3 separate regions of the Homo sapiens genome follow, and all the other regions are linked to region 1. Evidence: fine-mapped expression QTL. A gene starts in region 1. Each other region holds a variant in brackets. All regions are shown on one strand. Distances are between the middles of the regions.

The links. PIP is the estimated chance that this variant, and not a neighbour inherited with it, causes the effect.
Region 2: its variant is fine-mapped to the expression of ABCC1 in whole blood (TOPMed, PIP 0.99).
Region 3: its variant is fine-mapped to the expression of ABCC1 in whole blood (TOPMed, PIP above 0.99).

Annotation. Positions count from the first base shown.
Region 1 is chr16:15,948,340-15,951,002 of GRCh38, reverse strand. It overlaps ABCC1 (ATP binding cassette subfamily C member 1 (ABCC1 blood group)), which reads right to left and starts at 1,387. Exons shown (of 31, transcript NM_004996.4): 1 at 1,204-1,387. The coding sequence starts at 1,251. It overlaps LOC107984869 (a long non-coding RNA gene), which reads left to right and starts at 1,832. Exons shown (of 3, transcript XR_001752339.2): 1 at 1,832-2,212.
Region 2 is chr16:16,029,201-16,031,863 of GRCh38, reverse strand. All of the region lies in intron 5 of ABCC1 (ATP binding cassette subfamily C member 1 (ABCC1 blood group)), which reads right to left. Among named protein-coding and RNA genes, the nearest start is that of ABCC1, 81 kb to the right of the region's middle. The variant T/C (reference allele first, on the strand shown) is at 1,352.
Region 3 is chr16:16,005,415-16,008,077 of GRCh38, reverse strand. ABCC1 (ATP binding cassette subfamily C member 1 (ABCC1 blood group)) reads right to left here. Exons shown (of 31, transcript NM_004996.4): 2 at 86-262. Among named protein-coding and RNA genes, the nearest start is that of ABCC1, 57 kb to the right of the region's middle. The variant CCACCATCAT/T (reference allele first, on the strand shown) is at 1,157.

The DNA.
Region 1 (2,663 bases):
TGGCTTAAAATGGGAGATATATCAAAGTGTGGTAGGTTATTAAACACAATGATACCCTACTAAAAAAAACAAACAAACAAAACCAAACCCTCCAATGGGGCCCTGGAGGATGACTTTTCAACACTCCAAATGCAACCCTCGAGGAAAGGCCGGCAAAACAGGACAAGAAAGTATTTTTGGAAGCTGATCACCAGCTCCTAAGAACCAAGGCTGTTTCTCCTGATTCCTAAACAAAAGAGGAGAGAGAAACAGTCGTGTCCAGATTTGCCTACTGCGTTCACCAACAATCAAGACAGCACGAGACAGAAGTGCCTGCCTTCCTGGAACAAAGAGGCAAATCGCATTACGGAGAAGCTGAAGCCCAAAAGACTGGGGCTTAAACCACAGCAAGTGGACTCCAGACACCCAGTCAGGCTCCGCAGGCCACGTTACAGAAGAAAACTTGCCGGGGTTAAATCTAAGGGGCATCCCCAGAGAGGAGCTCCACGTGTTGCAGGGAAGGGAGGGCAGGACCACAGCTACCAGGGTCCTGGGCGTCCTCAGCTGCACCCCAAGTCTGCCCCGAGCCGAGGGTCAGGTAGGGCACATCAAGGGTGGACATCCCCCTTCTTCCCTGGTTCCCCCAAACTTCCCCCGCAGTATCTAAGTAGAAAGAACAAAAAAAACAAAGCTAGGTAACCACAGAAGAGTAATGTGGCTTGTACGACAACTTTGGGGAGACAATGAAAGTCCCTTTCTACAATCTAAGCCCCTCCCCAGCTCACCCCGTTGGTCACGGAGTATTTTTCGTGAAAAGGGGGGACCCTAACCACAAAAAAGATGGGAAAACAGAAGCAGAGAGACACCCCTCTTCCCGCCCCCCATCTCTAGCGTCCCCTTCCCTGGAAGGTTGTTTTTACAGACGGGAACCCCAAAACAGGAAGGCCTCCTCACGGCGGCTCTGACCCGACCCGACCCTCCAAAACCCCAGGGCTGGGCACGCGGCCCCCCACGCTCTGCTCCGCAGGAACTGAGTCACCCAAGTTTCCCCCATGCCTTGCACCCCCGAAAGGGGCTGGGCCGCGGGCGACGTGAGGGTCCCGGGCCCCCGAGGCCGGCAGCAGAGCGGGGAGCGGGGTGCCCCGGGCGGCTGCGGGCCCGGTGCTTTCCCTCCCCGCCGGCCTCCCTCCGTCCCGCCGGCCTCACGCGGCCCCCGGCACGTACCCAGAGCGGGTCGGAGCCATCGGCGCTGCAGAAGCCCCGGAGCGCCATGCCGGTGGCGCGGGCGGCGGCGGGCACCGGGCGGCGGGTGATCGGGCCCGGTTGCTGGCGCGGGCGGCGGCGGGCACCGGGCGGCGGGTGATCGGGCCCGGCTGCTGGCGCTAGCGCTGGCGGCGGCGGCGGCGGCGGCGCAGGGAGCCGGGGCCGGGGCCGCAACGCCGCCTGGTTGGCCCGCGCGTCACGGGGATGCGGCGGCCCCGCCCCACCCCGCCCCGCCCCGGCGCCCGCTCACCTCGCGCGTCTCGGCGTGGGCAGCCGGACCAGCCACCTCTCGGCGCCCCGGGCCTGGACCCCGCGCCACCCCCACCCCAGATCCTCCAAGGCTTAGGCCCACCCGCTCGCGGACGGGCCTGGGGAGCGTTGGCTCGCCTTCCGGAAGCGCCTGGGATCTTTGGGGCCACACACCCTGCGACCACTTTTCAAATGCTGTTTAAGGACAGTATCCGTCACCAGGGGAAAATAACGTGAACGGAGCCCCCTACCTGCCTGGAGTGTACCGGGCGCCTTAACTGTGCCCTCATTTCATCCTGTAAAGTCTCCACGTTCATGAAGGAAGAAACCCAGGTGCAGAGAGGTTGAGTGATTCCCTCTGCCCAGGGTCACCTGGCTAATCACTTGCAGGGCTGGGATTTGAACCCGGTCCGCTGACTCCAAAGCTGAGTCACACAGAAGGAGGTGAATACTGTTATTCACCTACCTTTTACAGATGGGGAAACTGAGGTTCAGAAAGGCGAAGTGACTTGCCCGAGGTCACACAGTTAATAAGGAGTGAAAGTGGAAGTGAGATTCAAACCCGTGAGCAGCCTGATTCCGGAGCACTGATGACCCAGACGGCGCCAGTCTCCATCACTAACAGCTGTTGACCTCACCTGTGTGCAGAGCGCCTTTGCTTCTTCTCAACCTCTTTAAGCATCACTTAGAAATAACCAGGTTATTGATCCTCACCTCAGAGGTAAGGAAACTGAAGCCTGGAGACATGATAATCGTAGGCCAGGCATGGTGGCTCGTGCTTGTAATCAAGCACTTTGGGAAGCCGAGGCGGGCCGATCACATAAGGTCAGGAGTTCAAGACCAGCCTAGCCAACATAGCAAAACCCTGTCTCTACTAAAAACACAAAAATTAGCCGGGCATGGTGGCGGGCACCTGTAGTCCCAGCTACTTGAGAAGCTGAAACAGGAGAATCACTTGAACCTGGGAGGCGGAGGTTGAAATGAGCTTAGATCACACCACTGCACTCCAGCCTGGGCAACAGAGCAAGACTCTGTCTCAAAAAATAATAATAAAAAAAATTAATATGCATTCACAGTGACAAGGCTTCCTAAGGCTGTGTTCTTAGCAATTTACACAAATTAACTTGTGCAATCCTCACAACCCCATGAGGTAAGAAGTAGTATTATCCCCA
Region 2 (2,663 bases), 81 kb before region 1:
TCACATGAACAAATGCAAAACTACAACTTCTGGGCCTTGATGTGTGTCCTGAAGGGAGAGAAATATTACCAATGAGACAAAGTAAGTGCATGGGGGCTGATCTGGTGTACGAAGGTCAGAGAAGGCGCCCCCGAGGCAGACAGTCAAGCTGGCACCTGAAGGGTGAGTAGATGAGAACTAAGTAACAAGGAAAGGCAACGCATTCCCAACAGACAGCAGTGTGTGCAAAGGCCCGGTGGTAGAAGAAAGCATGGTAGACTCCAGGAACCAAGAAGGGGCCTGAGTAGTCTACACTGGAGGCTGTGCACAGTCTACACTGCAGGCCACATATTTTGGTCTTCATTCTAAGGGCAATGGGAAGTACTGAGAGATTCTAAGCAAGCTATCAAAGAACTCATTTCCCAGAGAAATGAAGATGAGCCCCAAGTCAACAACATGCAGGCAAGGAAAGGGACCGATACAGAGCTCCTGGGATGACAGACAAAGCCTGGCTTTCAACATGGATGCATCCGGGTCTAAATTCTGAAACACAAGCTTTAGCAGCAGAGGGAAGAGAGGTCACCAGGCAGTAATGAAAGCTTTAGCCAAGGACTCCACTCAAAGTTCCAGCCTTGTGCAGATATAAGGCATTTACAGAGCCCGATAAGGTGGCATACTCTCGTCCAGTGGTTTTCCATTCAAGGCTGGGCGTGCTTTTTAAAAAATACTGTATCCTGGCTGGGTGTGGTGGCTCATGCCTGTAATCCCAGTACTTTGGGAGGCCAAGGCGGGCAGATCACTTGTGGTCAGGAGTTCGAGACCAGCCTAGGCAACATGATGAAACCTCGTCTCTACCAAAAATACAAAAAATTAGCTGGATGTGGTGGTGGGTGCCTGCAAGCTCAGCTACTCGGGAGGCTGAGGCAGAATTGCTTGAATCCATGAGGCGGAGGTTGCAGTAAGCTGAGATCGTGCCACTACACTCCAGCCTAGGGACCCTGTCTCAAACAAAATAAAAATAAAATTTAAAAAAATACTGTATCCGGGCCCTACCCGCACCAGGCAATCTGATTAAGCTGGTTCTGGGTGCGACTGGGGCACTGAAGCTTTGTTTTTGTTTTAAACTTCCAGATTTTTCTTGGAAAAGTGGCTGGGCAGGAAATATGCAAGGTAAGCCAAGAACATCTTGTCACACCGGACAACAAGGAAACTAAGCATGAACAGGATTGTTAAAAGGCTCAAGAGCCAAGCAGAAGTGGCCGCTGCAGGCTAAAAGAGGGACAATTTGAGCTTTGACAAGGAGAATAAGTACAACAGGCTGAAACATACCAAGCAAGGTTTTTGTTTTGTTTTGTTTTTTGAGATGGAGTCT[T/C]GCTCTGTCGCCCAGGCTGGAGTCCAGTGGCGTGATCTTGGCTCACTGCAAACTCCGCCTCCTGGGTTCAAGTGATCCTCCCGCCTCGGCCTCCTAAGTAGCTGGGATTACAAGCATCAGCCACCACACTGGGCTAATGTTTGTATCTTTAGTAGAGATGGGGTTTCACCATGTTGGTGAACAGGCTGGTCTCGAACTCCTGACTCAAGTGATCTGCCCACCGTGGCTTCCCAAAGTGGTGGGATTACAGGCTTGAGCCACTGCGCCCAGCCTTACATGTTTATGTACACAAATTTCATATTGACGCTGGAAATAAAGAGAAACATCTGATGTTGTCAGTGAACCAGGTCATTGTTTGAACGCAGAAAAAGCGGAAAGAAACAAGTATTTTCTCCACCTTTCCCAAATGTACTCATTTGGTTCACCAGGGTTGGAGAAGGCTTCCCTGAGGAAAACAGTCATTTATTCGATCACCACAGAGTGATCAGTGATCAAAGAAATGAAGGGGAAACTCTTTTCCATAAAAAAATCCCAGCTAAAACATAAAGAATGATATCATAGAAGAATGAGCCATTGTACAAACACAATGGATTACTGGAATATTTGATAATAATGAATTATTATTAAAGTTAGTATTACAGTCACATATACATGTTTTTTGTCAAGACAAGGTCTACCTATATTGATCAGGCTGGTCTCAAACTCCTGGGCTTAAGTGATCCTCCTGCCTCAGCTTCCCAAAGTGCTGGAATTACAGGCATGAGCCATCACATGCAGCCCAACAGTTACAGTTTTTAAAATTCTTATCTTTCAGATGTTATCATTAGAGAAAGTTGAGCAATGAACAACAGGAACTCTGTTATTTTTGCAACTTTTTGTGAGCCAAACTATTGCGAAATAAAAAGTCATTTAAAATAAACAAATCCATGTCCTTCAGAGATACATATTAAAACGTTCACCTATGCAATGCATGGTAAAGAGCTCATGGCAGCTGGGCGCAGTGGCTCACACTTGTAACCCCAACACTTTGGGAGGCTGAGGCGGGAGAACTGCTTTGAGTTCAGGAGTTCGAGACCAGTCTGGGCAACATGGCAAGACCCTGTCTCTACAAAAAATATAAAAATTGGCCGGACATGGTGGCACGTGCCTGTAGTCCCAGCTACTCAAGAGGCTGAGGCACGAGAATGGCTTGAACCCGGGAGGCAGAGGTTGCAGCAAGCTGAGATTGTGCCATCGCACTCCAGCCTGGGTAATAGTGAGACCCTGTCTCAAAAATAAATAAAAAGAAAAGAAAAAGAGCTCATGGTAGTTC
Region 3 (2,663 bases), 57 kb before region 1:
AGAGAAATGTCAGTTATCACCAACCACCACTCCCCGTCCAGGTGCACCTTCCCACCCCCCACAACGAAACCCCCCAGTGACTTACAGTTTTGGTTTTGTTGAGAGGTGTCATCTGAATGTAGCCTCGGTCATGTCGGGAGAGATAGAGGAAGTAGAAGGGGAAACAGGCCCAGAGGTAAAAACAAGGCACCCACACGAGGACCGTGTTCTGAAAGCACTTGGTGAAGTCGGGGTTGCTGGTATTCCACGTGACATTCCAGTCCTGCGAACACAAACACAGGCGAGGGGTCAGCAGGACACACCCCAGAGGACAGGAGCTCGCCTGGAGCATGAAACCAGCTGCCACGGGGTTTGAAGAAACAGACAAGGCTCCTATATATCCAAGGACCTTTCAGGATGAACACGCAAACTAAAAAGATCAGTAGCCAGAAAGACTAAGAAATGAGGAACAAGGGATAAAGGTATGTGGTGTCTTCTGCACTCCCACCTGAGCAACAGAGACCCTGTCTCAAAATAAATAAATAAAAATAAAGCTCTCTTAACAGGAGCATACAGGTCAGGTGCAGTGGCTCATGCCTGTAATCCCAGCACTTTGGGAGGCCAAGTGGGCAGACCACTTTAGGCTGGGAGTTCGAGACCAGCCTAGGCAAGATAGTGAGATGCTGCCTCTATGAAAAACACAAAAAGTGGCTGAGCATGGAGCGTGCCTGTATTCCCAGCCACTCAGGCGGCTGAAGTGGGAGGAGTGCCTGAGCCTGGAAGGCGGAAGTTGCAACGAGCTGAGATCATGCCACTGTACTACACCCTGGGCAACAGAGCGAGACCCTGTCTCTCACACACACACACACACACACACACACACAACAGTGCATACACACAAAAAAACCCACCAACAACAAAAAGGTATGTAGCATCTCATCTCACATTAACAGTCCCCAGAACCTGTGGCAAGTCCCACTGTAGTACGAAAGATGGAGAGAGCCATTTAAAGGAACCCTGAAGGATATTCTCTTATAACCGAAGAGCCCTGTGTCATCTAGATCACTCTGACCTTGTGAACTGAGGACTTTCTAATCATCTTCATTCATCATCATCACCTTCCCCACTATGACCATCACCACCACCAATATCACTGCCAACACCATCACCACCATCA[CCACCATCAT/T]CATCACCATCGCCACCATCACCACCACCATCACCGCCACCGCCACCGCCACCGCCACCGCCACCACCACGGATAACAACCAAACTGCAGTTCTGTATGCCAGGCTTTATTCTAAGTACCTCATGTGTATTATCTCCTTTCATTCTGTAATTATTTTTATCATCTCCTTTTTCAGATGTGAAACTCAGGCACAGAAGGGTTAAATACTGTGTCCAGTATCACACAGCTGGTAAGCTCTGGAGCTGAATTCAAACTCGGGCAATGTTGTTCAAGTCTGCATTTTGCCACTGAGCTGTCCAGCCTTGGAAACAAATTTTGTTTCAATTACTTTTACTTAAAAAAAAAAAGCCTGTATTTTGCTAAAGAGCCATGCCAAATAGACAAATTCATAGATACATACATAAATAGATCAGATGTACCTGCCCAAGAATAAACCTCCACCATCAGCTGTTCTGTAATGAAGAATTTAAATTTTTCTTTTTTTTTTCTTTTTTTGAAATGAGGTCTTGCTCTGTTGCCCAGGCTGAAGTGTGGTGGTAAGATCACAGCTTCCTGTGCCTTGAACTTTTGGGCTCAAGCAGTCCTCCCACCTCTGCCTCCCAAGCAGCTATACTACAGGTGTGCACCACCATGCCCAGCTGAAGAATTTAAATTTAATTCAAGCCATAATCTGGCAACTGACTAAATAACTTTGGGAAAACTTACTACCCTTTTTGGGGTCTCAATTTCCTATCTCCACCACAATTCAATCGGATAAAATAAGAAGTACAAAATAGGTTTCCCCACCCACAGTTTGGCCCATAGATGGCTTGTTGTTATTGCTGTTGTTTTAGGCATACTTTTTGTTTTTAAAAAAATTAGATTAGATCCCAACATTTAAAATTTGATTTCCGGCTTTTTATTTTTATTTTTTTTTTTCTTGACAGAGTCTTGCTTTGTCACCCAGACTGGAATGCAGTGGCATGATCTCAGCTCACTGCAATCTCTGCTTCTCGGGTTCAAGCGATCTCGGCTCACTGCAATCTCTGCTTCCCGGGTTCAAGTGATTCTCCTGCCTCAACCTCCTAAATAGCTGGGACTGCGGTCACCCCGCTTGGCTAATTTTTTTTGAATTTTTAGTAAAGACAAGGTTTTACCATATTGGCCAGTCTAGTCTCGAAGTCCTAAACCTCAGGTGATCTGCCAACCTCAGTCTCCCAAAGTGTTGGAATGACAGGCGTGAGCCACCACGCCCGGTCTCTGGCATAACTTTAAAAATCAGAAAATCTTCTGGGCGCAGTGGCTCACGCCTGTCATCCCAGCACTTTGGGAGGCCGAGGCAGGAGGATCACGAGGTCAGGAGATCAAGACCATCCTGGCCAACATGGTAAAACCTCATCTCTACTAAAGTACAAAAAACTAGCCAGGCATGGTGGCGCATGCCTGTAGTCTCAGCTACTTGGGAGGCTGAGGCAGGGGAATCACTTGAACCCAGGAGGCGGAGGTTGCAGTGAGCCAA